2 separate regions of the Homo sapiens genome follow, and region 1 is linked to region 2. Evidence: fine-mapped expression QTL. A gene starts in region 2. The other region holds a variant in brackets. All regions are shown on one strand. Distances are from middle to middle.

Region 1 (15,862 bases), 670 kb before region 2:
CTTTAAAATTTCTGTAAATTTTTCACATAATTCAAAATTATCCTCTGTGGTGAATTCCTTCAAGCAAGAATACCTTAATGTAAATGATCACTCTGGTATTATGGCAGTCACCTTATCACCCCCGCATACTACATCTGAAACCAGGTAACTAAAGGACTCTTTCCCTCAAGCATTCTTTCAGCCAATATTTATCATGCCCGTTTAGAATCTGCCTCAGTGCTAGAGCTGGCTGGGATGGAAAAAGTTCAGAACAAGGTTCTTGCTCCTAATTTAATGTCAAAACACTATCCACATACTTGCGATGGTCGATTTTATGTGATTTAGCTGGGCCACAATGCCCACATATTCGGTCAAACATTATTCTGGATGTTTTTGTAAGGGTGTTTTTGATGAGATTAATATTTCGATTGGTGGGCTCTTAGAAAAGCAGTAACCCTCCATAATGTGGGTGGGCCTCATCCAGTCAGTTGAAGGCCTGAATACAACAAAAGATCGATCTCCCCTGAGCAAGAAGAAATTCTGCCATCAGATAGCCTTCAGACTTGAACCGCATATCTGCTCTCCCCTAGGTCTCCCCTGGGTCTGCAGCCCAAACTGCAGATTTTAGACCTGCCAGTCTCATCACCATGTGAGCAGCCAATTCCTTAAAACAAATATTTCTAGATAGATAGATAATAGACAGACAGAGAAATAATAATAGATGATAGATAGATAGATAGATGATAGATAGATGATAGATAGATAGATAGATGATAGATAGATAGATAGATAGATAGATGATAGATAGATAGATAGATAGATAGATAGATAGATAGATAGATAGATAGATAGTAGATAACCTCCTATAGGTCTGTTTCTCTGTAGAATCCTAATACTGCAAGTGATTATTGAACCATGCATGTCACAAGTCTAATTAGAAGTGACAAGGAGTTCAGGGGAAGAGGCTGGCAGAGAGGAGGAGAAAGAGTTTTCAAAGATTAAAAACTGAAAACTGTGCCTTAAATAAAAGAGAGGATTAAAGCAGGCCAAGAAGAGGAGGAAGGGCACGGGCAAAGGAGGAAAGGTATCAAAGATAGTAACAACAGCTGCTGGATACCGAGCAACGCCTCTGTACCAGGGCCTGTGATCAGAGATTTACATTCATCATTTTATTCAGTGCTTATGGAAACCCTACAGATGGCTGAGATCCAAAACACAGACAACACCAAATGCTGGTGAGGATGTGGAACAACAGGCATTCTTATTCATTGCTAGTGGGGATGCAAAATGGCACAGCCACTTGGGAAGACAGTTTGATAGTTTCTTACAAAGCTAAAATAGGCTTGTACTTTCCAGCAATTGAGTTCCTAGGGTATTTACCCCCATGAATTGAAAACTTATATCGACACAAAAACCTCCACACAAATGTTTATAGTACCTTTATTCATAATTGTCAAAAAACCAGAAGTAACCAAGACACCCTTTGGTAGATTAGTGGATAAGCAAACTGGTCCATATTTATAATGAAGTGTTATTCAGAAATGAGCTTTCAAGCAATGAAAAGACATAGAGGAATTTTAAATGCATATTCTAAGTGAAAGAAGCCAGTCTAAAAAGGCTACCTACTGTGATTCCAACTATATGCCATTCTGGAAAAGACAAAACTATAGAGACAGTAAAAAGATCAGTGGTTGCCAGGAGTTGGGGAGGAAGGAAGGGAGGAATGAAGAGATGGAGCATGGGGGATTTTTAGAGCGGTGAAACTGTTCTGTATGATACTGTGATGATGAATACATGACATGCGTTTGTCGAAACCCAGAGGAACTATGAAATAGGAAAGGGAGAGAAGGGGTATATGAGAAATTGTACTTTCTGCAAAATTTCTTCACAAACCCACAACTGCTCTAAAAAATAACGCTTATTAATGGAAAATTTTATAACTCTAGGGGATAGGTATTATCCCCATTTTACAGGTAAGAAAACTGAGGTAGAGGCATAAATAACCAAGTTGATACAACACTACTAAACAATGGCAGCTCCGGGCAGCAAATGAAGGAGGTTCTGTGCTCACCCTCACTTCCTGCTGAGGATGCAGGGGGCAGGCAGAGCGCTCCCACTCTCTCTATCTCTTGCACAAATGCTCTGTGTCCCCACACCAGCCAACAATTAATGCCTGCCCTTTCATCGTTTTTCTACATGTCTCTGTTTCTCTCTATTTCTCCATTTAATTATTTATTTATTTATTTATTTATTTTTGAGACAGTCTCACTCTGTCACCCAGGCTGGAATGCAGTGATGCAATCTCAGCTCACTGCAGCCTCCATCTCCCAGGCTGAAGCAATTCTCATGCCTCAGCCTTCTGAGTAGCTGAGATTACAGGTGTGTGCCACCACACCTGGCTAATTTTTGCATTTTTAGTAGAAACGCCATGTTGACCAGGCTGGTCTCTAACTCCTGGCCTCAAGTAATCCACTTGCCTCCGCCTCTCAAAGTGCTGAGATTACAGACGTGAGTCACTGCACCCAGCCTAATAATTCTTATATATGTCTTGCTCTTGTTATCCATCTCTGAAGCCAGCACAAGGCCAGTAAAGGTCTGGTAAATTACCTGAATCTATTCAGGGTCCTGACACGGTCAACAGACACACAGATTCTGACTGTAGCCTTCTCATTAAGCTTTTGGGTGTTTTTACGCTGCTGAGACCTCTTCCTACGCCCAAGGTTCTGTTTGGCCTCTGAACATCAGATACCCCCAGGGTGGCCAGTTCATCACCCACTCTTGTTTTTCCCAACACTGAAATGGGGCACACAGCCCTCGACTTTATTGGAGTATGATGGAAGTACACTAAACTGTGCATATTAGAGTGCACAATGTGATCAGTTTGACACATGTACAGTACTGTAAAAGCACCACCACAATCAAGATAACAAACATTTCCACTGCCCTGCAAAATGTCCTGGTACCCCTTTGCCCCGTCCCTCCCTCCACCCCTTCATCAGGCAATCAGTCTCTTAGCCACTTTCTAGCCCTATAGATTGCTTCCCATTTCCTAGAGTTTAGATAAATGAAGTCATAGAGTATGGACTGTTATTCTGGATCTTTCACTCAGCCTAATAATTTTGAGATTCATCCACATTGTGCATATCAGTCCTGCATTTTATTTTCTAGCTTTTTTCTTCTAGTTTATCCATGCTCCTGTTCTGGACATTCATTTCAGTTTGGAGCTATTATCCAGAAAAACTGATGTGAATATTTGTGTACACATTTTTCTGTACACATGTTTTCATTTCCTTGCATAAATACTGAGGAATGGAAGGGCTATTTCGTACGGTAAATATACATTTAACTTTTTAAGAAACTGACAAACTGGAAGTGATTGTACCATTTGACATTTCCACTAGCACTATGTGAGAGTTCCAGCTGCCCAATACCCTCTCCAATGCTTGTTATGATCAGCATTTTGTTCTGCTGTTTTATTTGTTTACCATTCTAATGGGTGTAGTGTGGGGGTATCCCACTATGGCTCTATTCACGTTTGCTTACTAACTAGTGATGTTGAGCATATTTTCATGGGCTTATTGGCATTTGATATATCTTCTCTGTCATGTTTATTCAAACCTTTTGCCCATTTTCTTATTGGGTTGTCTTCTTATTTTTGATCTATAAACATTCTTTATATGTTTTAGATCCAACACTGCATATTTCTGAGAGGGCCAGACAGACAGGGAGGACCTAAGCTGGCAGGACTCTCTAGCGTGGTGCTGTGGGATCTCCCTCCAGACTGGGGTCCAGCCCTCTGCCTCTCTGTGTACTTGGGAGGATGTGGCTCAGCAGTGCTGTTGAGCCCCTCACAGGCTGTGGGAATGCACCAAGGAGAGAAAGTGTTTCTGCTACATGTCACCTGCAGGCTGTGGCCACGGAGGTCTCTCTCTCATGGTCAGGATCTCCTTCCTCCTACCTCCTAACCCCAAGGCCTGAGCACCAAGACGCCACTGCCCTGTCTCAGCACCGCAGGCCCAGGACTTGAGCGGGAGCCCGTGGAAGGCTTTTTGCTTGGAGGAAACATCTCAAAGTCCTGGACTAAAGGCTCTGGACATCTAGAGCAGTGTTCTCTGACTGTCGCGTGCATGGGAGCCACCGGGGAGCTTGTGGTGCAGGTTCCGCTTCAGGAGGTCTGGGTTAAAGTCCAAGATGCTGCATTTCTAACATGCCCCAGGCCATGCTGATGCTGCTGGTTCTGGGACTACAGGTTGAGAAAGGAGGGTCTAGGGCAGGTCTCAGAGCGAGGACCACCCATCAGCAGCAGCCGCACCCCCTGGGAACTTGTAAGAAATGCAAATTTTGGGGCCTGACCCCAGATGTGCTGAAACTGCAACTCAAGGGTGAGGGTCTGCGGTCTGTGTTTCAGCAAGCTCTCCAGGCGATTCTGATGTCTGCGAGCACTTGAGAACCGCTCTGCTGGACAACGAAGCCCATCATCACTTCTCCTACCACCCGACCTGCGTGTCTGAGAGCACTCAGATGGTGGGGGGCATGGATGGGGGCAGGGATTTATTTGTCCCCATATTTCCATACTAGAGGAAGTCCACATAAATGGAGAGGTTTCAAAGTAAGAAAGAAAAGTAAGAAAAAGAAAGGAAAAGAACCTCCAGTGCCCTGCCTTTTCCTGACCTCTTTACTGCTCTCCACAATACACTTTCCTGCTTTTTGCAGACCCCCAGTTAGAGAATAGAGGGACTTTGTGCCCCTGATAGCACATACCTCGCTTGTTCCCTCACTTCCAGGCCTCTCCTGGGATACTCCCTCTCCACCCTCCTCAAGTTCTCCTATCACAGCCCTTTGCCTGGCATTTTCCAGCCGTCCTCAGGCTGCATGTCACCTACCCCACTAGACTGCAACCATCTGCTCATTTATCTGTCTCTCCTACTACCTGGAGCCACATGGGTGGGGGGTGGGGGACAGGGGCTGTCTTGCCCCACAGTTCTTTACTATGTAAATGTTAAATGAATAAATAAATGGGAAAGAGCCAAAGGAGGAAGTAACCATGGACAAGGAAGGAAAGGAGCACTGAGCTCAAGCTGGACAGTCCAACCCAGACATTTTGCAGATGAGGACATTTACAGAAGGCAGCAGTGTCATTGTTATCTCTCCACCACTCTCTGTCCACTGCCTCCCAGGATCCAAGAGTCTAGAAATCTTAACAGGCACTGATCTTTTCTCAAAACTATGCCAAAGCCTAAGCATTTTTGTTCTCACTCATTTATGCCTAAACTGAAGCTAGGTAATAGTCTTCCTCCCCACCAGGCATGGATGCATTCAGAGAACACCAAAGCACCTATGCCTGAGGACAAATTATTATACTTTGTCCACAGGTGGACACCTGAACAGCCTCCCTTGCTCATCTAAAGAGGCTGCTCACACATTTGTTTTTAATTCTCTAAATTCTTCCCCACCTGCGAATGTAGACATCATTACACACTATCAACATTTAAACTTATTTTGCTCATTTCCAAAGTAGAGAACAGTTTCTATCATTCTAAAATACTAAACACAATAAATTAACAAGCACTTACCCAGTAGGCACCTACAGAGTCCCCAAGGTTGTGGGAACTAGAAAGTCTAAGGAACAATCAGGAGACTCTCAACTTAGTGCTTATATCCACTTCGGAAAAGACCATTTCTTGCCTTGACTGGCACATGATTCATCTGTCACCTAATTCTGATGTCCATCCAGGCATTAAATGGATTTTAGTCCTTTTAACCGAAAAACTTTCTGCCACCTCATTCATTATACCTAGAAACCAAACACAAAGTGGGACTTAATAATTATTTGTCATGGATGATGACGATTTCAATCTGAATGCCTATGGGATTACTGGAATAATTACATACTGCTGGGCTTCTGAGAAAAATTGAGCCACTATTCATTCTCTGGTGGGCTTCTCTGCCCCAGCAGGACTATAGGCCTTTAACATAATAAGAAAGGCTGAAGATGGGGCTCCCTTAGCGGCCTATGGTCATAAACAGGAATCAGAACCATTGACCTGGGGGTGGGAGGTGGTGCATGATCAGGCAGTGGAGATAAGGTACTGAAATTGCTTTTAGCCATTATTGTTTGCTGCCCTTCATATTAGAAAATGGTGTGTTTGGAACTGACTGCCTGTGCCTGTGTAGGAAAGAAGAAAGACATAAAGATGTGACAAACTGCCTTGCTGCCGCACTGAGCTCCCTGACAGCTAGCCTTGGGTGGCACCAGTAATTCATGCAAACTGTGAAGGTGCAGTGGTGAGACATTCTGACATAACTATCAAAATAATGGTAATTTCAGTTCATCTGTTCATAAAATGGATCTTTTTTATTTAAGAAAAAAAGCCAGGAGGCATAACTTAGAGGCATGAATCATTTTCTTAACAAAGAGTTTACACCTATAATCCCAGCATTTTGGGAGGCCAAGGTGGGCAGATCGCTTGAGCTCAGGAGTTCAAGACCAGCCAGGGCAACATGGTGAAACCTTGTCTCCACAAAAAATACAAAAATTAGCCAAGCCTGGTGATGTGAGCCTGTAGTCTCAGCTACTCTGGAGGCTGAGATGGGAGGATCCTTGACCCTGGAAAGTCAAAGCTGCAGTAAGCCAGGATCACACCACTGCATTCCAGCCTGGGTAACAGAGCAAGACCCTGTCTCAAAAAGAAAAGAAAAGTTTAAAGGAGAAGGATATTAACATTTAATTATTGGATGATCATTATTGGCATCTGGAGTTGTAAGTGAGATGTAGAAAGCATCTCATCTCCTTTAAATTTACAATAGTCCTACAAGGCAGACAAAACGTGCAAGGTAAAAACTGGCAATCTACAAGTTAAGTGACTAACCCACTCAAGGGCCCATACAGGAGGGAGGCCAAGATATGCCCCAGCCTATCTCACTCCCATGCCTCAAGGAAGCCTGGCCAGAGGCCAGAGTTGTGGGATCTTGACGTATAAGATTCTTCATATACATACATATATACATATATATTTATATATACACACGCATACATGTGTATATATACACAAACACACACACGTATGTGAATACATACATAAACTCTAAATATATAGGAAGGATGATGGTTGATCTACATTAATATAACATTTAAATACACTTTTATTTGTACTGCTAAAAACATGTACAAAACATAAGATTTGTACATCTTATAAAGCAACATCACAGAGTTTTATTTTTGTAAAAGGCATATATACTATATATTGAAATGGTTTGGATGTTTGTCCCTCCAAATCTCATGTTGAAATGTGATTCCCAATGTTGGAGCTGGGGACTGGTGGGGGGTGATTGGATCATGGGGGCAGATCCTTCATGAATGGTTAGCACCATCCCCCTGGTGATGAGTGAGCTCTGGCACAGTTAGTTCACATGAGATTTGGTTGTTTAAAAGAGTCTGGGACCTTCCCCTGCTCTCTCTCTTGCTCCCACTCTCACCATGCGACATTGCTCCCTGTCGCCTTCTGCCGTGAGTAAAAGCTTCCTGAGGCCTCACCAGAACCCAAACAGATGCCAGCGTCATCCTTCCTGTATGGCCTGCAGAATTGTGAGCCAATTAAACCTTTTTTCTTTATAAATTACCCATCCTGAGGTATTTCTTTATTGTGACACGGGGACAGACAGACACACACACACACACACACACTCTCGCATATGTGACTAGAAAAAAAGTCTAGAAAAATATACAGCAATGCTAGGAGTGATATCTCCAAGACAAGAGATTATAAACAGTTCTTATTTTATTCTTTATACTTTTCTGTAACTTTAAAAAATAGATGTAATGAGTATAAACTACTTTTTCAATAAATAATTAACTTCTAGGAATATAAGCTTAAAAGGGCACATCAGAAAAACGGGACCTAAGGATTTTGCCCTTGGTAAATTCCTGTTCCTGATAATTTTCCCTAAAACATTTAGTATGCAATCTAATCTGTTCCATAAAAATCATTTTTTCATTCATTATACATTCACTCATTCAACAGGTATTTGTTGAGCACTTACTATCAATATATACCAAGTACTAAAGTGACCCCTGCTTGGGGATTCTGACCTTCTGAATCAGAAGAGGGGAATGAAAGAGGTACAGTTATTATGCATGTCACCCTATGTCATAAACAGAGGTATCAGAACCATTGACCTGGGGTGGGAGGTGGTACAACATCAGGCAGTGAATAAAAGGTATTGAGAGCAGAGAACAAATTTGCATTAACTTCAGCAGGGAAAGACTACTTGGACAGAATTTTGTCTTCACATCTACAGGATGAAATGGCGCCAGAAGCTCTGTGTGGACCACCAGCTTCTCGATCCTGGAGGTGGAGAATGACAGGGCTGGCAGAGAGAGGTAGGCTTGGGAAGAGGCCAACCTGAGGACAGATGCCC[G/A]GAACAGACGAAGGCCACAGGTTGCCCAAGAAACTCCTGCCTTCCTTCCCTACAACCTATCCTCATGTGGTGCTGCCGAAGCTGCTCTCAGCCTCTCCTTCCAAGGGTTCCCTGGGGAGCAAAGAGGCTCTCACTGTGCCCCATGTTAAGCAGAATGTCGTTCACCGTTATCAGTCCCAGGGGAGAGGAATCCCACGCACTGGTTACCAACCCCAAGGCAGGATTTCTAAGACCAAGAGAATAGCAAAGACGACCACTATGCCAACCACCAGGAAGAGAAGTCCTAATACTTTGCCCATTGCATTATGGTGCTGGAGTCGCCAAGGAAAACAGGACGCAGTCAAGCACTGGATGGAACAACACTTTACTTACACGGAGAAGAGATATGGCAAGAGCTGCTTCAGCAATGTGTGCCAGTATCCCATGGCCAGTGGATCTCTCCTGACAGCCCACACAGAGCAATTGGCTATGTGTACCCCTGCCACAGTATACGGACCTAGTCCCCTCCCTGTGGAGGAAACATACAGCTGTGGGGTTGGCCCAGTGCCATGTGATGCACCTGCCTAAGCAGGACAAAGGAGCATACATTGGGCTTGCAACAGGGAAAGATATTTCCACACAAGCCAATACACCCAGCGCAGGCCGTGTAGCTCTTTATCTTTTGGTAGGGAAGTGTTCCAGGACCAAGGTTTGTTCTTTTTTGTTTTACAAAGATATTTTATTTTATTTTTAAACTTTTATTTTAGATTCAGGGGGTCCATGTGCAGGTTTGCTACCTGGTGCATTTTATGATGCTGAGGTTTGGAGTACGATTGAACCTGTCATCCAGGTAGTGAACACAGTACCCAATAAGTCGTTTTTCAACCATGTATCCCTTCCCTCCTGCCACACTTACATTCCCCCGTGTCTATTGTTCCCATCTTTATGTCAATGTGTACCCAATTTTTAGCTCCCACTTATAAGTGAGAACATGCAGTGCTTGATTTTCTGTTTCTTTGTTAATTTACTTAGGATAATGGCCTCCAGCTCTATCCATGTTGCTGCAAAGGACATGATTTCATTCTTTTTTAGGGCTGCATCATATTCCACGGTATATATGTAACACATTTTCTTTATCCAATCCACCACTGATGGGTGCTTGACTTGATTCCATGTCTTTGCTATTGTGAATAGGGCTGCAATGAGCATGTGAATGCAAATGTCTTTTTGGTAGATCTATTTTCTTTTGGATATAAACCCAGTAATGGGATTGCTGGGTCAAATGGTAGTTCAACTCTTAGTTCTTTAAGAAATCTCCAAATTGTTCTCCACAGTGGCTGAACTAATTTACATTGTCACAAGCAGTGTGTAAGCGTCCTCTTTACTCTGCATCCCTGCCAATATCTGTTTGGGTTTTTGTTTGTTTGTTTGTTTTACTTTTTAATAAAAGTCATTCTGACTGGTGTGAGATGGTATCCGTGGCTATCTTCATTTCTCTGATGATTAGTGAAGTTGAGCATTTTTTCATGTGTCTGTTGGCTGCTTGTATGCCTTCTTTTGAAGTGCCTGTTCATGCCCCAAGGTCCAATGTTATGCGGCCAGGACTGTGTGAAACTGCCTTTCAGCACCCACTTCCCTGCCTCCATTTCCATGCACATTAGAACAGGGACCCCATTATAGGACATGGGTTTATGAGGTCATTTCTGTTGGCTTTCTTAATAAAAATAAATGTGTCCACTGCAATCCATACTAGAACAAAATTTGTTTTAAATGAGACAGGGTCTGGCTCTGTTGCCCAGGCTGGAGTACAGTGGCACAGTCTCAGCTCACTGCAACCTCCACCTCCCAGGCTCAAGCCATCCTCTCACCTCAGCCTCCCAAGTAGCTAGGACTGTAGGTGCACATTACCACACCCAGCTACTTTTGTATATTTTTGGTAGAGATGGAGTTTTGCCATATTGCCCAGGCTGGTCTTGAACTTTTGGGCTCAAACAATCTGCCTGCTTTGGCCTCCCAAAGCGTTAGAATTACAGGCATGAGCCACCGTGCCTGACCTAAAATATTTATTTCTTCAGGCATTTTGACTCAAATTCTTTGAAATTTATAGATTTATTTTACAATCAAAGATGGGCTAGGTGCAGTGCCTCACTCCTGTAATCCCAACACATTGTTTGAGCACAGGAATTCAAGACCAGCCTGAGCAACATAGGGAGGCCCCATCTCTACAGAAAATTTTAAAATTAGCCAGGCATGGTGGTGCACACCTATAGTCCCAAATACTTGGGAGGCTGAGGTGGGAGGATCACTTGAGCCCAGGAGTTCGAGGCTGCAGTGAGCCATGATCCCACCACTGCACTCCAGCCTGGGCAACAGAGTGAGACCCTGTCTCCAAAAAAGAAAAAGAATCTAAGGAAACTTTCAGAAATAATTTGGAAAGACCAAAACATGGGGTACCCACAGAAGACTAATAATTGGAAACCCCTTCACGTGATAAGAATTTGTTCAACATTCCCTAGCAGGCATGAGGAAAGGCTAATAGTCTATGAATAAAAGCTATAGACTTCTTTCTTTATGGTCAAAATAAGGGATCTATCATGTGTTCTAAACATAGCAATCAATCTTATATTGAAATTGTCTATCATTTTGTAGTATTTTCTTTAAAACAGCTATGAGTTGGTCCTACACAGTCACAAAGGATAATCTCACTCACATCCATTCTCTCCAACTTTTTTTCACATTATCCACACATAGAAAATGATAATATTTGTAGAAAAACCTCTATGAGTTGGTCCTATACAGTCACAAAGGATGACCTCACTCACATCCATTCTCTCCAACTTTTTTTTCACATTATCCACACATAGAAAATGATAATATTTGTAGAGTACACTGAGGTAATCTGGGGGAGGTATGGGTATATCTCTTTGGAGCTTGGTGTAAAACACCTCGTGACTTTTTTTTGTTTTATATGCTATAATGATAAAAAATTAAATATAAAATATTAAGAAAGATGTTAAATATCTAATTTGAATATTACTTTCCCAGCAATTTTTACATTTTTTAAAATTAGAATTAGAAACTCAAGTTTGCTTCCATGAACGTTAACAACCGTAACTTTCTTATACCAGATTTTAAAGCTGAAATGGCTGCACACAATTTGTGATCAAGAGTTTTTAATGATGATCCTTTAAGTCTGTGAGTCACATCAATGAGAAATTTTGTTCTCATAATTATGATAATACAAATGTTTTAATCATTTTTATAACTTTTGAAAAATTTATAATGGTTCAAATTGTATTTTAGAAATCTAACCACTCTTTTTTCCCCATTGGCCAATATCATAATGAAATATTTTTAATGATGAGAATAGATTTATAATCCAATAAACTTTTTCACGTCAAGTATTTCAAAACAATGATAACACTCAAACAGAGGGCATGAATGTCATCCTTCAGGGTGAATCAGCTGCAGATCAGACAAGGGCAGCCATCATATGTATAGGAGGTGGAATAATAGCCCACTAAAGATGTCTGCTGCAGTCCCGGAGACCTGTGAATATGTTATTTCACATGGTAAGGGACCCTACGGACGTGATTAAATTAAGGAGCTCAAGCTGAGGAGATTATCCTGATTATCTGTGTAGACCCAATATCACTACAAAGGTCCTTCTAAGGAAAAGTGGTAGGCAGGAGAGTCAGGCAGAGAAGATACAACAACAAAAACAGAGGGCAGAGTCAGAGAGAGACTTGAAGATGGTGGGCTATTGGCTTTGATGCTGGAGGAAGGGGCCATGAGCCAACAAGTGTCCTCTAAAAGCTAAAAAAGGAAAGGGAACGGATTCTTCCCTAGAGCCTCCAGAAGGAATGCAACCTGGCCAATACCTTGATTTTGGTCTAGTGAAGCCCATTACAGACTCTGACCTCTAGAACTGTATGATAGTAAATCTATGTTCTTAAAAGCCACTAAATTTATGGTTATGTGTTACAGCAGCAATAGACAACTAATACAGAGAAAGAGAGACTAAAATACATACAGAGAGTGACTAACTCTGAAACAGGACCTGGAGCTGGGCCCACAGGAACCATATACAACCTCTACCCCTCCCACATCCAACCATCCGCTCCTTACACACCAAAACCACAAATTCTCCAATAGCTCCACAGGACCCTTGTCCACAACAGGCAGCATCAATGTACTCTGCCGCAGGCAGCTGCTCAAGTAGTCTCTGAGTGGTAGAGCACCATGACCTCCCACAACACATCAACCTAGAGTCATAAGTGCTGGCTGTTGCTCATCACACTTGTCACCCAGGGGCACCACAGAGCAGTCACAGACTCTGCTCCACTCAGGCTGCCCTCCAAGGAGCCCCATATGAGGCTGCTCAGGAGCTCCGCCTCTGCAGGCCCTGCCCAACCACCTTGAGGGCTGAAAGGAACAATATCTTGTAGCACATGTGTACCCACCTGTGACGTCCCAGTAATAAACTATTGAGAATCTCTAAATTCTATGACCACTGTTACAAAGTCTAGGATAGAGCAATACACCATAGTTTGTTTACTTCCAATTTCTCAGCTGAACTTGACCCAGACTTCAGGCAATCATCAGCTGGCAGGTCTCAGAGTTGGTGGTGCAATCTGCATTTGCACATGAATCTTGCCCCACACAGAAACACATATCAAAATAGATAGAAATCAAAACAGGTTACCGTTTATTTCAATAAGAGAGAAATTTATACTTCACCAGGTTTTTAAGAAGCCCTAATTAACTGGCATAATATTTCTCTTTTATTCCAGTGATGTTGTAGTGCTTTTTATAGATTGTTGCCTTGGTGTGCCTGACCCTTAATCTGGTTCTGATAAATCTCATTTCTCTTGTGTGAGAGAGAAATAGACAGACATGGTGAAGGAGAGAAAGAGCAAGCAAGCCTGTTTTCCAGTGAGGTGGGACAGCTCATGAAGACATTCTGAAGTTCCCAAGGTCAGATCACCTTGTCATCCCAGGGCTGACACTCAGCCAGCATGTACTAAGACAGCTGTGCCACTTGTGTGCCTCTGTATTGATTCATTAGGGTGCCATTTGACTGGTTGGTGTTTGCACTGCCAGTTGTTAAATAACCTTAATATAACCCTTATTGGACCATTTGCCTGAATATATGGCTATGTGGTAACACTAGGGAACCAAGTTTTCAAGGACTCTGACATGAGCATAAAGAAAGGAGAGATGACCAAAGAAAAATTGTTGTGGATTTGAATACATCTGCAAGAACATATTAGATATTCCAAGTCATAGTCATAATTACCCCCTAAAGAGGTGTCTAAAAACCTTTAGACCTGTTTCTCCTTCTAACAATTAGGACTTTCTATCCCCTAGTGCCAGTCCTCTGTGGGCCTTCCACAACTTGTCAAAGTCACTCCTCTGCAAGCTATAAAACAACTGCATTTTGTGCCTTTTTTTCCTCTGAAAATGTAAGGAAGGGAACAGGAAAGTCTGTAAAACAGGAGATTGTAGCCCTGTCTATCTCCTTTCTCAGTTGTGTTGTTCTCCTTGCAACACTTTTGTCTGATGCTTTCCAAAGCTCCTTTGAACAATTTATGCAACTTACAGGTTAACACCTGGGCTCAGCTGCCCAAATGCCTTACCTGTGGCCAGTATGATAAACCCAACAGGCAGCATTGTCAGGGATGAGCCTGGGCACAGCCCACAGCCCTCCTGCACTCCTTTCAATCTGGGCCACACTTGTCTTTGCCATCTGAGTCTGGGCAATAGCAAACAATTTCACCCCCCCGGTAACACTAGCCTAAACTATGCCACACATAAGACCCTCGAGGGCTCAGGCTGGTTTCTGTTTTCTCTTGGGTCCCTTTCCTCATGAGCCTGATGGTGACAGACCAACTTACAAGAACACCGAATTGCAGCAAAAGAATACACCTCTGCAGGTTTACAGCTGGCAGGAGCCACATCTTCAATCTGCACAGGCGTCTCTCCTCACCATCCCACCATGTCAGGCACACACCACTGCCAAAAGGAATTGGTAGACACCCACTTAGACAGAGATCTGAAAATTGAGTAATGGAGAGTAATTTTCTTGAGGAACAAGGTATCACTGGAGCCCATAACTCAAAATGAAGAGAATGGTGGGCAGAAAGCACTATATTTTGTTAAAATACACTTGCTTTATCTTAGTTTTCTCAAAGAACAGTCAAGGGCCTAACACCTTCTTAAGAAAGTCACATAAGCAGATGGCTAATATTTCCACGTCAAGTGAAGACATTAACCTGCCTGTGCGGGGCCTGCTTCCTAACAATTGAAAAGTGGCAAGACACCAAAGAGCCAAAGAGTGAAAAGGTTTTCAGTTTGCAGACCTCCCCTTCCTCCCATGGAATGAGAGAGCACAAATGAAACACTAAGCAAATACTTCATGAAGAAGAAGGTGACATTTGCTTACCACAAGGGAGCATAAACATCCTAATCTGATGAAGAAGAACCAATGAGAAGATACTTAGAATGGCCTGAGTTATAAATTAAAGTGGATTAAATGCATATGGATATAAGTTACAGATAAGTTATAGAAATGGACGATTTTAGGAAAAGATTCATCCAAGAAATAGTTTACTAAGAGTCTAAATGTGGCACAACGTCAGTCCTGCTAATCACTAGATATACATGACAACTGTTTTAAAGAGAGAAATTAGGGTGATATTTCCTGACATTTTTTAAATACAGGTTTGAAACACTAGCACATGCCAAAAATCTTATTTTTTCCTAGTTCCTCAACTTTAAACTGCACAAATGGGGCTAGGCTAGTGGTGATGGTTGATCAGTGCTCTGAAGAGAAAGACAGCTTAATGTATCTAAGCAAGTCATGGGCTGGGTTCTATAGAAATCCAACCAGTTATCCTTTAGGCATATCACATATATTTTTTACTGGAAATAAAGTTTTATCACAAATGAAGCATTGATACAAACTATATTCCAATTTATATGAAATGATACACAATTTTGAAATGCAATTTAAAATAAATACAAACACCTATTTTAAATAGATACAAATATTCTCTGTATTTAAAACAAATAGTGAAGTGGTCTATCTCGGCAAGGAGGAATATTTTATCACTGACATTGTTTAGAATTGCCAGTGCACGTGATAATAAAAAGCAGACTGACATTTAGCCAGTCTTATTATTGATCTTAAACTTCTCTTTTGCTTGTCCCTGGGGCTGACCATTCCCCATCTATTAATATGCCACAACCTTACCAACTGCCTCAAATCCTTTTTGGAATGAGATGAGTATAAATGAATGAATGCAAAACACTTAGGAATGAAGTAGACCTAGAAAATATATTTAGAAACTTAGAATGCCATGGCCTATAAGAAATCTTATTTAAACTATTCTAATAAATCTACAACTACTATCAATCATTCCTTAATCATTTTTCCATTTCTCTATTTTGCTTTAGGAAGACGTAGTTAACTCTTCTCACAGTC
Region 2 (15,862 bases):
TAAAAACGCTAGTAGTCAACATGTTTAACTCAATAGATATAAAGGACTTGGAAGTATCGATATTAATATATTAAGTAATAATAGTCTTAAAACTTTAGCAGAAACAAAGAGTAAATGAATGATTCTTAAAATATTGTTTTCATATGAATTAACAAAAAATGTAATATTTAAAAATTTGAGGCAACTAAATTGAGGACAATGAAATCACTGTAAATTCTAATCCAACATGGTGAAAACCCATCTCTACTCAAAATACAAAAAAAAATTAGCTGGGTGTGGTGGCGCATGCCTGTAGTCCCAGCTACTAGGGAAGCTGAGGCAGGAGAATAGCTTGAACCTGGGAGCCAGAGGTTGCAGTGAGCCAAGATCATGCCACTCAGCCTGGGCGATAGAGCAAGACTTCATCTCATTAAAAAAAAAAAAAATTCTAATCTGTCTGGAAGAAAATTAATCATTTTATACTTAAAATTATGTAGATTTGCCAGGTGCGGTGGCTCATGCCTGTAATCCCAGAACTTTATGGGGGCCAAGGCGGGCAGATCACGAGGTCAGGAGCTTGAGACCAGCCTGGCCAACATGGTGAAACTCCGGCTCTACTAAAGATACAAAAAATAGCCGGCTGTGGTGGCGTGTGCCTGTAATCCCAGCTACTCAGGAGGCTGAGGGAGGAGAATCGCTTGAACCCGGGAGGTTGAGGTTTGCAGTGAACTGAGATCGCGCCATCGTACTCCCATTGCACTCCAGCCTGGGTGACAGGGCAAGACTCCGTCTCAAAAAAAAAAAAAAAATTATATGGATTCCACCAAACAAATATATAGATAGAATATTTGATGATTTCACGTCATTCTCTGTAGTAAAAACTAAAACCATTAATATGGTTTAACTTTGCTAATATGGTTTAACCAGGCTAAGAACCAGTTTTGTGACACTGTCTTCTCCTCATAATCCAGGCAATTAAACAGTATGGAGACCCCAATACCATGGCTTTTGAATTCCAGTTTGGAAGAGAACAAGAAGTCTAGACTCCTATTTTTTTCTCTTAGAGCACAGAAGTCCTCAAGTTGCCCCAAATTAAGTCACTGATAATAAATTCCAGCATATGGTGCATAGGCTCAAGAATGGAGCCTTCCAATATCTGCAAGTTAGGCTTGCTAATCAGGCCCAAAGCTGTAAGAGCCATAAAACAGACTTTTTCACATCCTAACAACAGCAGAAAAAAATAAGTTGAATCCCTTCTCCCCAAAAATCATTAGAGAATTACTTGATGAGGGTTCTCCCACTGCTAGGATAACCATGAGTATGGATTCTTGTCATCATTTCACAATAGAATCACTGTCTGATTCTGAAGAGTTAGAAGAAATAATTTCATTATTTTTACCTACTGATACTGCCCACTAACAGATCTGACAACTCTCAAATTCATAAATAATTGTGATCTTTAACATCCATATTTTAAATATGGATCTAAATGTTATCATATATACTTTCAAGAACTAATGATGCACTAATGTTTTTCTTCCCTGTTCCTTATACTTTCACATTGTAAAATATGGCACTGAGAAATTCTCTTGTTGTCTAAAGTCAATCAGTGTTATACTCAAGGGATGACTTTTTTTTTTTTTTTGAGACAGAGTCTTTGTTGCCCAGGTTAGAGTGCAGTGGCACAATCTCGGCTTACAGCAACCTTCGCCTCCCAGGGTCAAGTGATTCTTGTGCCTCAGCCTCCTGAGTAGCTGGGACCACTGGTGCACACCATCACGCCTGGCTAATTTTTGTATTTTCAGTAGAGACGGGGTTTCATAATGTTGGCTAGGCTGGTCTCGAACTCCTGATCTCAAGTGATCAGCCACCTCACCCAACCAAGAATAACAAGATATTATCTTTAACATTTTACATATTAAAAGATAAAGTGAACTTAAATGACCACTTAAATTAATACATTTGGCATTCAGCATCAGCACATTGAAATGTGTGAAAATTGTTGATTAACTAGAACAATGGGTTAACTATAAGATGGTACTAAAGAGGTTTAATAAAGTTGAAACTATCAGTCAATTTTGAAGCACTTGTCCGTTTAGGCTGCTTATTGTTCTTTTTTTTTTTTTTTTTTTTTTTTTTGAGACAGGGTCTCACTCTGTCACCCAGGCTGGAGTGCAGTGGCGCAATCTCAGCTCACTGCAGCCTCTGCCTCCCAGGTTCAAGCGGTTCTCCTGCCTCAGTCTCCCGAGTAGCTGGGATTACACCACCACACCTGGCTAATTTTTGTATTTTTGGTATAGACGGGTTTTCGCCATGTTGGCCAGGCTGGTGTCAACTCCTGATCTCAAGTGATCTGCCAGCCTCGGCCTCCCAAAGTGCTATTACAGGCGTGAGCCACCACGCCTGGCTTAGGCTGCTTAAATATTCTTTCTTAGGTATCCTTGGTTTTGGAAAAAAAAGAATAACAGAAAACTAAAAATTCCCAGTGGCAGTCTCTGTATCACTGGAATTTAACTTTTTGTTTGTTTGTTTTTTGAGATGGAGTCTCGCTCTGTTGCCTAGGATGGCGTGCAGTGGCGTGATCTCGGATCACTGCAAGCTCCGCCTCCCGGGTTCACGCCATTCTCCTGCCTCAGCCTCCTGAGTAACTGGGACTACAGGCGCCCGCCACCACGCCTGGCTAACTTTTTGTATTTTTATAGAGACGGGGTTTCACTATGTTAGCCAGGATGGTCTTGATCTCTTGACCTTGTGATCACCCGCCTTGGCCTCCCAAACTGCTGGGATTACAGGGGTGAGCCACCACGCGCGGCTGCAATTTAACTGTTTTTAATAGCTTCTAATTTGTATAAATCACACGTAGCAGTTAATAGAACTGTTCCAAATTCCCATCGGAGTAGCTGGTAGAGGAATTATCTCTGAGAATGCTGCTTCATTCTTTAGGAGGCAACACGGACTCTTGGAAAGAGAGGCAGGCCTTGCGTTGAAACACTGCCTCAATCACTAGCTATGTGATCTTGGAAAAGTTACTTAAACTCTGAGAATTAATATTTACTCCACATACTTGAAGTGAGATTGTGAGATAAAGAACACGACAATTAGTTGCTTTTCTTCTTTTCCCTCTTCTCCACGAGTAACAATCCATTTTAATCTCCATTTTAGTCTAGATCATTTGCTCAGGTTAAGCTTACAGGTCCCATCACTGTATCACTAAACATTACAAAGTTCCACAGTAAGAGACAATCTCGCTAACACAGGCATCATTATATGAGACTGATGAGCTTCTAGAAAGTCTGATGACTACATCATAATGGGAAGGATAAGGCGTTCCTCAAAATGGATGCCATAAGTAAAGTAAGCGCAATTCAATTGAACCCGAATGTTTATTGAGCATTTCCTCAGCTCATTCAAGAAGTCATTGTTAACCATATATTAAGGCATCCAAGAAACAAAAAGCGCATTTGTTGTAGTAAAAAACAAATAAAATAAAGCTGAAAAGATTTCAAATAAAAGGTTTCCAGAAAATAGGCATTAAAAAAATTGTCCTAAAAAAAAAAGTGCTGCTGTTTTTTCCTAAATAATGATCTAATTAAATCACCAAACTTACTCAAAATGGCTGTGTACAAAAAATGAGAGTTGACATTAGATCTCGGACATATTTCCCACATACACAGTGATTTGAAGTAAACTGCAGTTTGTTTTGAATAAATCTAAGTTATATGTTGTATTACTATGTATTGCTAAATTCTCTGCACTACTGTCATGCAATACTAATTTTACAGGGGAAGCTGAAGCCTGATTAACTTCGTCAGTGCCACAGGAAGAAACAAGAGACAGAAGGAAAAAGCACTTTGGATGCCCGCTGTAATTCACAGAGATCTCCACGGTAGGAGCGGGACGTCAGCTTCTGCGGCTAAAATCTCGTGACTGAAGCAGCACAGATCAGAAAGAACGATTTACCAGGTATCTATTTCGTTCTAGAAAGGGGCCCATAAACCTAAAAAGCATCCAGGAGAAATCGCTTCCTCCCGCTTGGCGGCAAAGGACAGAGCAGGAGGGCGAGCACTGAGTGTTTAAGAAGGATGAGGCCTACATGGCAAAGGCTTCGATAAGTAGGGAATGCAAGGAAACAGAAAAGGGGGAATCAGGTTCGCAAAAGTTTACCTTTTAGCGCCAGCAGGTGCTCCTGTTTAGGGGGATTCACTTCCATTTTGACCGGCACTTTTGACCCACAGCCTACGGGGGCTGGACAGGTTCAACTTGCCCCGGAAGGAAACGGAAAACCTCGCGTTTGGCAAAACCAAAAGTCAAACGCACTCTCAACCTCTCTCTGGTGGTGGTACCTTAAATTCTCCTACTGTGTCCTTTACAAACTGGCTTCTTTTCAACAAGTCCATTTCTTCTATCTTAGAAACGTAGGCATAAAATACTTTGTTTTCCATCTGCAATCACACATCGCGACTGCAGGAAAAGAAACCACCCCTAGGTAACAATACGCGGCCTCCCAAAGGCCAACGTTGCCGGAGTTTTTTTTTTAAAAAAAAAAAAAAAAAAAAAAAAGAGAGAGAGAGAGAGTGGCATGCTGGGATTTGTAGTTTATACAAAAACCGCGTTGCATGCAGGGAGATGCCCGTACCCCCTCACCGCCCTCAGTTCACGCCCTGGCTGGTTTGGATTCGAGAGGAAAAATCATTAAAGGATCTGGAGTTTTCACCCCAAAACTTTAATCGTTTTGTCCCTTCTTTTTTTTTCTTGTCTTTCCTCCAGCAGCTGCAGACTACATAATGAAAAATAACAAAAGTGCCCATGCGCGAGGCTGTGCAACTAACCACCCGACGATTGCGGGGAGGAGGAGTAAGAGTCGGCTAAGCGGCGCCCAGTGTCCTACTGCGCCTGTGCGCCGGTGGCGTGCGCAGAGGCCTCTGGGTAGGTGGCTCAACCCCGCCTCTCAGTTGAGGACTCTGAAGGCTGTTTCTGTGGCGCTTCCCCTGCGAGGATGGCTACCCTGGTTGTAAACAAGCTCGGAGCGGGAGTAGACAGTGGCCGGCAGGGCAGCCGGGGGACAGCTGTAGTGAAGGTGAGGGACCTTGCGTGCTCTATTCTCCACCATCGGCCTCCCTTCGGTTCATCCTGGAGACCTGGCGGCATCGCCGCGGCCCAGGCTTCGATAGGTGGGATGCGCGGCCTCTGGGCCCCTTTTGGCATTACAAGTCTCGTCCTGTCCTCTGCATCCTTTCTCTCCTATGGCCTGAAATTGCCTGGTCTTCTGCTCATGACATGTCATCATCGGGACATTTGTGAAAAGGAGCTTGCGGGCCAGTGGCAGTGACCTAGACCGGTCTTTTCTCCAGGTCCTCTGCTTTTAGTTAAACTCAACAGACATTAATTAGCTTAGTATTATAAATTGAGTCATCATCATCGTAACTACGTACTAAGTTAGGTGTTTTAGCTCGTTAATATCTACTTATGAAGTAGATGTGAATTCCCATTTTACAGGGAGGAAACCCAGGTTTAGGTAAACAGTGTGTGGCAGAGCCCCGGGTTGACCGGCTTTAAAGTCTGTACTTTTCGCTCTTGTACTGCGTCTGTAATCAGACATCTGTTATTGGGTGAGCTGCCCCCTCCCCTGTTAGTAGTACAGTCTATTAACTCTTTGCACAAGTCTGCAGCATCGTCATAGCTGGGCATTAACGATAGAGTTTATGAATTTTCTTATGCTTGAAGTTTGAGATTCTACCATGTATACATGCTCCAGAATCAATTTGCTAAAAAATCATTTGAAATATGTGGCACTCATTTTTCCCTTCCACTGTTGTGCACGGAAAGATATGGAGGGGAGAACTGATCCCATTGGTTTATAGAGTAACCTTCAGGAGCATCTCTAATCTAAGAGATTGATAATTCTCATTCCTGGCTACATATTAGGATCACTGAGGAGTTTTAGTACACTACTGATGCACTCCTCCTCCAGTTCTGATGAGGTTGACATCAGTATATTTTAGGAATTACCAGAAGTTATTTTAATGTGCAACCAGGGTTATGAATTACTGATCAAGGTAATATATGAAGTTTTTTTCACATCTTGAAAAGTAGACACCTATGATTATTCAGGTAATGTTGGTTTTATATGACAGCAAATGAGACATTTCTTCCCACAATTTAGTATCAGTGAATATTGGTGGTTGTTGATTCAGATGACCTTTAGGTACTAATGAAGTTATTCTACAGGTACACGGCATATCTGATATGCAAAGGAGCCCTCATTATTAGGCATGTTGTGTGACTGAGATTTTATTTATTGAATTGTGCTTTTGCTAAGTAGAGAATACTTGAAGAGCAGTTTGTGAATTAACTTGAAGTTTAAGTTTTATTTCATAATTGGAATGGGTATCATTGCAGTATCTATTTTTTTGTTACCCTGTTTGCCTTACAGTCTCAAAAGTGTACCAAAGCCTGATGTAACTCCAGTTTCTTACAGCACAGAATTTGATACATTGGAGGCTCACCTTGTTCATTTTCATCTTAACATGTAAAATATTCCTGAACTGTGCAATGAAATAGTCCTTTCTGACAAAATCTTCATGCCATAATTTGTAGTAGGTATAGTAGCATAAACTAAAAAAATCTCACTGTCATTTCTATAGATGAAAGCAAGAAGTATTTATTGGAAGGTAAAAGTTGAAGTATATAATGCTAATACTGTGTAAAATGGCCTTTTGCTTGTGAACAAGTTGATAATGACATGGCTTTTATCATTAGAGAAAACAGTAACATAAAAATCTGATATTGTGGCTAGGCGCGGTGGCACACGCCTGTAAAGCACAAAGTGCCTGGGAAGCACTTTGGGAGGCCAAAGTGGGCGGATCACTTGAGGTCAGGAGTTTGAGACTAGCCTGGCCAACATGGCGAAACCCCGTCTCTACTAATAATACAAAACGTAGCCAGGCATTGTGGTGTGGGCCTGTTAATCCCAGTTACTCAGGAGGCTGAGGTAGGAGAATCACTTGAACCCAGGAGGCGGAGGTTGCAGTGAGCTGAGTTTGTGCCACTGCATTCCAGCCTGGGTGACAGAGTGAGACTCCATCTGAAAAATAAAAGATAAAAAATCTGATATTGTGAAATAACTGACATTTAAAAATGTATCACAGAAAGTTTCACACCTTTAATCTCAGCACTTTGGGAGGCTGAGGTGGGAGGATTGCTTGAGCCCCAGAGTTTGAGACCAGCCTGGGCAACATGGTGAGATCCTATCTCTACAAATAATAATAAAAAAAAATTAGCCAGGCGTAGTGGCACATGCCTGTGGTACCAGCTACTTGGGAGTCTGAGGCAGGAGGATTGTCTGAGCTTGGGAGGTCAAGGCTGCAGTGAACCATGCTCAGGCCACTACTCTCCAGCCTGGCTGACAGAGTGAGACCCTTTCTCAAAAAAAAAATAATAATAATAATAAATAACAACATAAAATAAAATATCTGATTGATTACAGTTTGATTTACAAGTAATAAGTTTGAAGCTTTTTTGGCATTTTTTGAAGTGTAAAATTAAGAGCTTTTTCCTATCTAGGGTTTTTTGCTGTTAACCACAATTCCTATTTATAGATACTGAGGAAATATTTTCTTGCTGTATTATTTACCGAGTTGATGCAAAATAGTCTAGTAACTTTATTTTTGGACCTGTGTTTGGTTTGCTAATCAATGGAATTTTATTAGTGCTTTTTGAAAAATACATTAACAGCATAAGGAAGTTCTTTTAAATCTTTGTATAGTGATGGGATCAGAGATACAGGATTGAAATGAACTAAACAATTTTAATATGGTTCTTTGGAGTTTATTGTCATAAATTTACTTTATTAGAGTATCATAATACAGCATTTATAAAATGTTGCATTTATTTTATATCAAATTCTATTGTGAATTTTTGAGACAGAGCCTCACTCTGTCGCCCAGGCTGGAGGGCAGTGGCACAATCTTGGCTCACTGCAAGCTCCGCCTCTTAGGTTCATACCATTCTCCTGCCTCAGCCTCCCGAGTAGCTGGGACTACAGGTGCCCGCCACCGCGCCTGGCTAATTTTTTGTATTTTTGGTAGAGATGGGATTTCACCACGTTAGCCAGGATGGTCTCAATCTCCTGACCTCGTGATCTGCCCGCCTTGGCCTCCCAAAGTGCTGAGATTACAGGCGTGAGCCACCGCACCCAGCCTATGAATATTTTTTCTATATTTAATTGAATTTTTTTTTTTTGAGGCAGGTTCTCACTCTGTCACCCAGGTGGGAGTGCAATGGCACGATCATGGCTCATAGCAACCTCGACCTCCTGGGCTCAAATGATCCTCCCACCTCAGTTTTTGATTTTTTTTTGTAGAGACAGGGTCTCGCTGTGTTGCCCAGGCTGGTCTTGAACTCCTGGCCTCAAGCAGTCCTCTTGCCTTGGTGTCCCAAAGTGCTGTGATTACAGGTGTGAGCCACAGTGCCTGGCCTAAAGAATTTGATAACGTGAAACTTTCCCCTTTTTAAAAAATGTAGGATAAATTGAAGTATGTGTATATATGAATAATAGACAGAATTATACGTGGATAGCTGTTCCCCAGTTGTTTGCCTTTTTCATGGGGAACCAGTGTTCCAATGTTACTGGTGTCCTATGTATCCTTCCAGGAAGACAATACGCTTATACAACAATACAAAAAAAATTTGCTCTTTCCCCACCTTTATGCAAAAATGAATATATTCTATTATTTTTCTTTTTGTTTTAATCATATGAAATCATTCTGTGTATATATGAAAAACTTCATCTTTCTCACTATCCTATATAGTTTTATAGTATTATGAATGTGCCACAATTTATTTTCCAAGCTGATATTGATGTATATTTACTTTCTTTCCAATTTTTTGCTAATGCAAATGATGCTTTAAGGAGTAACATACAGATTTTGTCACACGTGTCTAGTATGCTTGTAGGATAAATTCCTGCAACTAGAATTACTGAGTTATTTAAATTTGGTAAGTATTGTCAAGTTGCCCTCCATAGAAGCTGTATTGCTCAATAAACATTTCATAGCAATTAGTAATGTATGAGAGTGTCTGCTTTCCCACACCTTCACTAACAAAATGTTACCAACATTTTTGATCTAATCTGAAAAAAGTATTTTGATGTAGCTTTAATTTGCATTTTTCTTTCTTTATTTTTTTGAGACCGAGTGTCATTCTGTCACCTAGGCTGGAGTGCGGTGGCGTGATCTTGGCTCACTGCAACCTCCGCCTCCCAGGCTCAAGCAATTATCCTGCCTCAGCCTCCTGAGTAAACTGGGCTTACAGGCGCCCACCACTATGCCTGGCTAATTTTTTTGTATTTTTAGTAGAGATGGGATTTCACCATGTTGTCCAGGCTGGTCTCGAACTCCTGACCTCAGATGATCCACTCGCCTCGGCCTCCCAAAGTGTTGGGATTACAGGCATGAACCACCATGCCTAGCTTTAATTTGCATTTTTCTTATTATGAGTTAGATTGAACATCTTTTCACGTAAAGAATTTTCATCTTCTTTTCTCTGAACAATGTTATGTTTCTTATTTTTATTCATTTTTATCTTCCCAAACCCTTATTTACATTGAAGGACTAAATTTAAATTTCTTTTGAACCATGATAAGATGCAAAGCAATTATGAATTATCACTGTATGGTGAAAGATATTTGCATCTCAAGCACTAAGTCCAAGTTAATTGTAGAGTTAGGTTTAAAATCATAGTAGATTTAGTCTGATTTCTGCCTTGGGTTTTCTGTTTTTTACCTCGTGTTGTGTGTTTGATGATGGTGAGCTTAATTGTTTTTAAATTATTTTACTGGACTTTATGTAAGCAGTAGGTACTTGGTATTTAAAATACCCAGTTCCTGAGGGTTCTTTGGTCCAACAGGGAAAGACGGGCTAAAAGACCAAGGTATTAAAGTGTTTTGGGTGTTACGGTAGACGCTTATACAGAGTACATCGGGGCCCAAAGGACAAGTATAGTCCTTTCCTCAGTGTTAGCATGAAGAGACATGAAACAGTTTCTCATGTTCTGAGAACTATAAGCTGTTGGATATAGTTGGAGCATAGGGTCAGAAGAGTATGGCAGTGAAGCAATAGGACAGGGACCAGATTGTAGCAGGTCTTGAATGACAGGAGTTTGAGGTATGATTGAATAGTACAGTGTGGGTATTTTTAAAAAATTAATGCAAGGTATGAAACACTACAAATATACTTAGAAATAAGTGCTGAAAATGCTTTATTGCTATAAATACAATTTGTTGACTATTTGTAAAACATAAACTTATGGACTTGAGAATCAGAATATGCTGATAAATGGCCTTTCTTTTGACTGACTGTGTAGCCTTGTGCAAGTCATGTGTCTGTAACTAGAGCTAGAAAGACAAACTAGTTTCTAATTCAGAGCTATATTTATTGATAGAGAACAGGAATTGAAATTTAAGATGATTGCTTTTTTTGCCTTTGTATTATTTAATGTACATTAGATAGTAGAAGATACTTGAAAGTTACTTGCAGTCTTTTCTTAACAAGTTCTTTATCATTTGCAGGGGTAATTGTTATCTCAGTACATATTTTAGATTATTTTTGTTGAAATTAATGATAGTTTATTTGTGTTGAAATTAATGATGGGTTAGGTAGTTGCAGAGAAATTGCTTAAGAACCCACCTTCAGTAGAATTACATATTGTTTGTACAGATTCAGATGTAATGACTGAAATCATAATTTTCAAAAGATAACAAAGATGTTAATTTACAGCATCTTTGCCCCAACACTTAGTATTTCAAAGATATTTCATTATGATATAATTTTGACAGGGTCGGTCAAATGGAATGACTTAAAAGTGATTCAAGATTTTACAACCTACATAGTTTTTTTTTCATAGAGGAATAAAGTAACAATGTTGATTCAATATATTAGGTGAATTTTCTTATATACCTAAAATATGTATGCTTTTAAAATTGTTTAAAGAGCACATCCTTCCTTTTCAAATATTAGGTGCTAGAGTGTGGAGTTTGTGAAGATGTCTTTTCTTTGCAAGGAGACAAAGTTCCCCGTCTTTTGCTTTGTGGCCATACCGTCTGTCATGACTGTCTCACTCGCCTACCTCTTCATGGAAGAGCAATCCGTTGCCCATTTGATCGACAAGTAACAGACCTAGGTAGGAAAAGTATTTGTATGGATTTAAGATTGAAAATTGTTCATGTAATGCAAATGTCATAGGAAACAATGTCCTTCCACTTGATTTTTAGAATGATAAAATTCCCAGAAAGTTTCAGAAAGCCTAAGTTTCTATTAAGGTCAATAATCTTCAAGCTATAAACTATCTCACTCTTAGTTACTAATTTTATTTTATCTTCTGAGATGTTTATATTCAATACTTATCTGTAAAGAGCTTTAAGACACCTGAGAAAAACGTGCTACCCTGATTCAAATAAATAAGAATGTGTATCACAGAGTGAATCATTTGCCTGAAGCCATAAACCCAATAGAACAATGTTTTCTTTACAAATAAATAAGCCAATAATGAAAATACAGATAAGTCATTTGAGTCTCACCATGTTTTTATTTACTAATATCAAGGACAGAAGTGTTTGTAGCTTGTGATAATTACTCTTTATTTTCTGTTAAAATGAGTTTGAAGGGTTTGTGGCTTTTTTTTGCAGTTTTCTGTATACTTTTAAAACTTTTCTTTACGTATTTCAAACTAAGTTATTTTCAGATACCAGATTTGGAAATAATAGCATTTACTAACATTTGAACAGTTATTTTACAAACGTAAGTTCTGTAAGTTTACTCTTTTTGATAAGGGAGTTTTCTCCAAAAGAGTTTAAGGTTGCCATTTTTTTTCCAGGTCAGTTGCACTATCTAAGACAGTTTTAATATATTCATACTATTTTTCAAGTGGAACACATTCAAAATAATTTATCCACCAAAAAAGGAAGCAAGAGTACCTATAATTTTAGGCTGGAAGACTTTGAAATGCTAAGAAACATGGTTTTAAAATATTTTCTGGAGAAAGAAAAGGATTTTTAAGGTTTTGGTGATCTTTGATGTATATAAATAGTCTATTTGCCTGACAACTAATAGACAGTAATAACATTATAGATAGCATTAACTTACCAGTAGCCAAGAAATAATAGGGATTGGGAAAGTCTCTGTACTTTTATTTGGTCTTTTATTATGTGAAATATGCATATATCATACTATTTCTTTATATAAAACTATACTTAGGCCAGGTGAGGTGGCTCATACCTGTAATCCAGAACTTTGCAAGGCTAAGATGGGTGGATCACCTGAAGTCAGGAGTTCAAGGCCAGCCTGGCCAAAATGGTGAGACCCCTTTTCTTCTAAAAATGTAAAAATTAGCTAGGCATGGTGGTGGATGCCTGTAATCCCAGCTACTTGGGAGGCTGAGGCAGGAGAATCGCTTGAGCCTGGGAGATGGAGGTTGCAGTGAGCCTAGATCACGCCATTGCCCTCCAGCCTGGGCAACAAGAGCAAAACTTGGTCTCAGACAAACAAACAAAAAAACTATGCTTAAAGAAATAGTAATGTTTTTCAAATAGAGAATAGAACCTTTCTTCTACTTTTTTTTTTTTTTTTTTTTTTAAAGCAGAGTGTTACTCCGTCACCCAGGCTGGAGTGCTGTGGCGCGATCTCAGCTCACTGCAGCCTTCACCTCTGGGGTTCAAGCGATTCTCCTGCCTCAGCCTCCTGAGTAGCTGGGATTACAGGCACCTGCCACCACGCCTGACTAATTTGTGTATTTTTAGTAGAGATGGGGTTTCACCATGTTGGCCTGGCTGGTCTCGAACTCCTGACCTCAAGTGATCCACCTCAGCCTCCCAAAGTGCTGGGATTACAGGCATGAGCCACCACACCTGGCTCTTCTACCTTTTTGAAGAGCACTTTACCTTCTCTACATTAATACCACAATGTGAAGAGTTACTATCCTCAATGTTTAACAAAACTAGAAATTTATGACAGGGAACTAGACTGAATACATCCATCCTCCTCTCTGACTTCTCTGAATCCTGAATCAGAATTTCTCTCTAGTCCAAGAAGAATATGAGTAGTTATTAATACCATTCAGCAATATTCCTGATTTTCTTCTGCTCATATGGTGAAATTACACTTCCTTGCCCTCTTACGCATCACTGTGTGATGTTCATTGATCAGTGAAATGTAAGCAGAAGTGAAGTGTTAGCATCCAGGTAGAAGTTAATAAGAGAAGGTTTATGATTTTCAAAGTAAATTCTTCTCCTTGCTGCAGTGAGGTGGTCCAGATGGTTGGAGGCTCGGTAGGCTGTGTCCCTGTTTGTGGTCAGTGGGGAACAGAGTCTCTCTTGTCTTCCCTAATCCCTGAGATGTTGCATGATGCAAAAAATAAATCTTTGTTGTGTTAAGCCATTGAGATTATAGAGTTGTTTTGACACAGAATTAAGTGATATAAATATTAGGCACTACCTAGTAATAATGCTAGAGGTTTATTTGTATATATTCATTATATAGTGACTGGATATTTAGAAAATTGTCAAGACTATATTTTTAAATGATCACTTAGTGTACTTCTTAACCTTTATGTAAATAGATAGAACTCAGCTTGTTGTAGAATATGTGTTAAAAATTAAGGAGAAAGCCTTCTAGGGGCAAGGCTGAGGATAGATATGTTCAGTCCAGTTTTTTTGGGAGAACCACAACACAGAATGGCTTTTTTTTTTTTAAGAGCCAGGAGGAAGGGGGGCCCTGCAGGCAATGACTCCATCAACCTTTTATATATTTATTCATTTAATGAATATGTATTAGGTGGCAGCTATATCAGATGTTATTTGTTGCATAGGAGTTTACCATAACAAATATTCCTTCTGCTAAAGGATCTGACTTTTATTCATAGGTTCAGGAAGAGTGTGTATGTTGTCCTGGGTTACAATGTTATATGTATTTCTTAAGGTAGGTTGCTGCAAAAAGTATTTGAAAATGCTTGTTTTAGCATGTATAGTAAAAGTCAATGACAAAATAGGACTTGTAAAATTAAATGATAGAGAAATAGGCTGGGCACGGTGGCTCACACCTGTAATCCCAGCACTTTGGGAGGCTGAGGCAGTCAGATCACTTTAGGCCAGGAGTTTTGAGACCGGCCTGACCAGCATGGCGAAACCCCATCTCTACCAAAATATACAAAAAAATCAGCTGGGCATAGTGGCACACACCTGTAGTCCCAGCCACTTGGGAGGCTGGGGCACGAGGATCACTTGAACCCGGAAGGTGGAGATTGCAATGAGCAGAGATCACGCTACTGCACACCAGCCTGGGCAACATAGCAAGACTCTGTCTCAAAAAAAAAGTAAAAGAGATTTAAATAATTTTTTTAAACTGTGGCAAAATATATGTATAACATAAAATTTGCCGTTTTAACCATTTCTAAGTTTAGGGACATTAAGTACATTCATATTGTTGTGCAGCCTTTACCACCATAATTTTTTTTATGTGTATTTAGATTTTTTTTTTTTTTTTTTGAGATAGAGTCTTGCTCTGTCATCCAGATTGGAGTGCAGTGGTGTGATCTTGGCTCACTGCAACCTCCACCTCCCGGGTTCAAGCAATTCTCGTCCCTCAGCCTCCTGAGTGGCTGGGATTATGGGCGCCTGACGCCACACCTGGCTAATTTTTGTATTTTTAGTAGAGACGGGATTTCACCATGTTGACTGGGCTGGTCTTGAACTCCTGGCCTTAAGTGATCTGTCCGCCTCAGCCTCCCAAACTGCTGGGATTACAGGCGTGGGCCAAAGCACCTGGCCAAAAAATAATAAATTTTAAAGTGTGTTTCTACTTGGAAGGCTGAAGGATTCTTCTGTTTTTTAAGAGAGCATTAACAAAGCAATTATTTTGGTATTAAAAATGGGGAAAATTTGAATTTTAAAAATTTAGACATTAACTACTGAACTATATTAGAAATTACTTTTGAGGTATGGGTAAAATGATTAATAGTCCATTTTGTTAGATTTAGTTTTTGTTTTTATATTTATTCTAGGTGATTCAGGTGTCTGGGGATTGAAAAAAAATTTTGCTTTATTGGAGCTTTTGGAACGACTGCAGAATGGGCCTATTGGTCAGTATGGAGCTGCAGAAGAATCCATTGGGATATCTGGAGAGGTATTGATCATACTTGGTGAAATATTTGTTACGAGCATGAATTTTTCTTTTAATAGATGCCATTATTAGCACAATATTACTTCATTTATTTCAGCAGGTAAATTTCTAGAAACACAACTTTTCATTACATTACAGTTCTGAAGGCCAACACTATTCCCAAGAGAAAAAACTAGAATTATTTGAAAATCCTATGCCTAAACTATGCTTTATGTGTGAACTTTTTTTTCCTTATCATAATTCAGTTCTACCAAGAATAAAGTGAAAAGAGGAAGAAGATTATGGAATAGTAAGAAAGATATGTAAGCAACAGTAGAGAAGAGGATGCAAAAGTAGTCAACAGTAAAACTCAATGAGAGAAAGAAAAACTCGATGTAAGAGGCCATTTAATACAGAGGGGAAAATGCCTTAAAGATAGCAGTAACTTCTGAGGGAATTGTTACTGTTATAGCTTCAAGAAAAGGTTAAACTTTGTATAGATGTACTGTCTTTATCCATACAGGTAGATGTCTAGTAAATATCAGAATCCATGAACACTGGATTTTAATAATGTAAAAGTATATTTTTAGCACTTATGTGTTTGCATAGCTGCACATATGTACTATAGGACATGGCTTTCGTAGGCTGTTATGGGTAAAAATATATTTGGAGTAAATATCAGTTAATGATTTTGGTGATCAACTTGCAAACCACATATTTTGTATGAAGGAAAA

The links.
Region 1: its variant is fine-mapped to the expression of TRIM23 in spleen (GTEx, PIP 0.91).

Annotation. Positions count from the first base shown.
Region 1 is chr5:66,282,321-66,298,182 of GRCh38, reverse strand. LOC105379004 (a long non-coding RNA gene) reads left to right here and starts at 102. Exons shown (of 3, transcript XR_948385.3): 1 at 102-144; 2 at 15,835-15,862. LOC124900988 (a long non-coding RNA gene) reads right to left here and starts at 5,769. Exons shown (of 3, transcript XR_007058792.1): 1 at 5,553-5,769. The variant G/A (reference allele first, on the strand shown) is at 8,398.
Region 2 is chr5:65,613,388-65,629,249 of GRCh38, reverse strand. It overlaps TRIM23 (tripartite motif containing 23), which reads left to right and starts at 4,917. Exons shown (of 11, transcript NM_001656.4): 1 at 4,917-5,056; 2 at 10,995-11,157; 3 at 15,031-15,152. The coding sequence starts at 4,976. It overlaps TRAPPC13 (trafficking protein particle complex subunit 13), which reads right to left and starts at 4,223. Exons shown (of 13, transcript NM_024941.4): 1 at 4,144-4,223. The coding sequence starts at 4,189. It overlaps SHLD3 (shieldin complex subunit 3), which reads right to left and starts at 4,223. Exons shown (of 2, transcript NM_001365341.2): 1 at 4,144-4,223. RefSeq lists enhancers at 4,708-4,787, 4,918-5,247.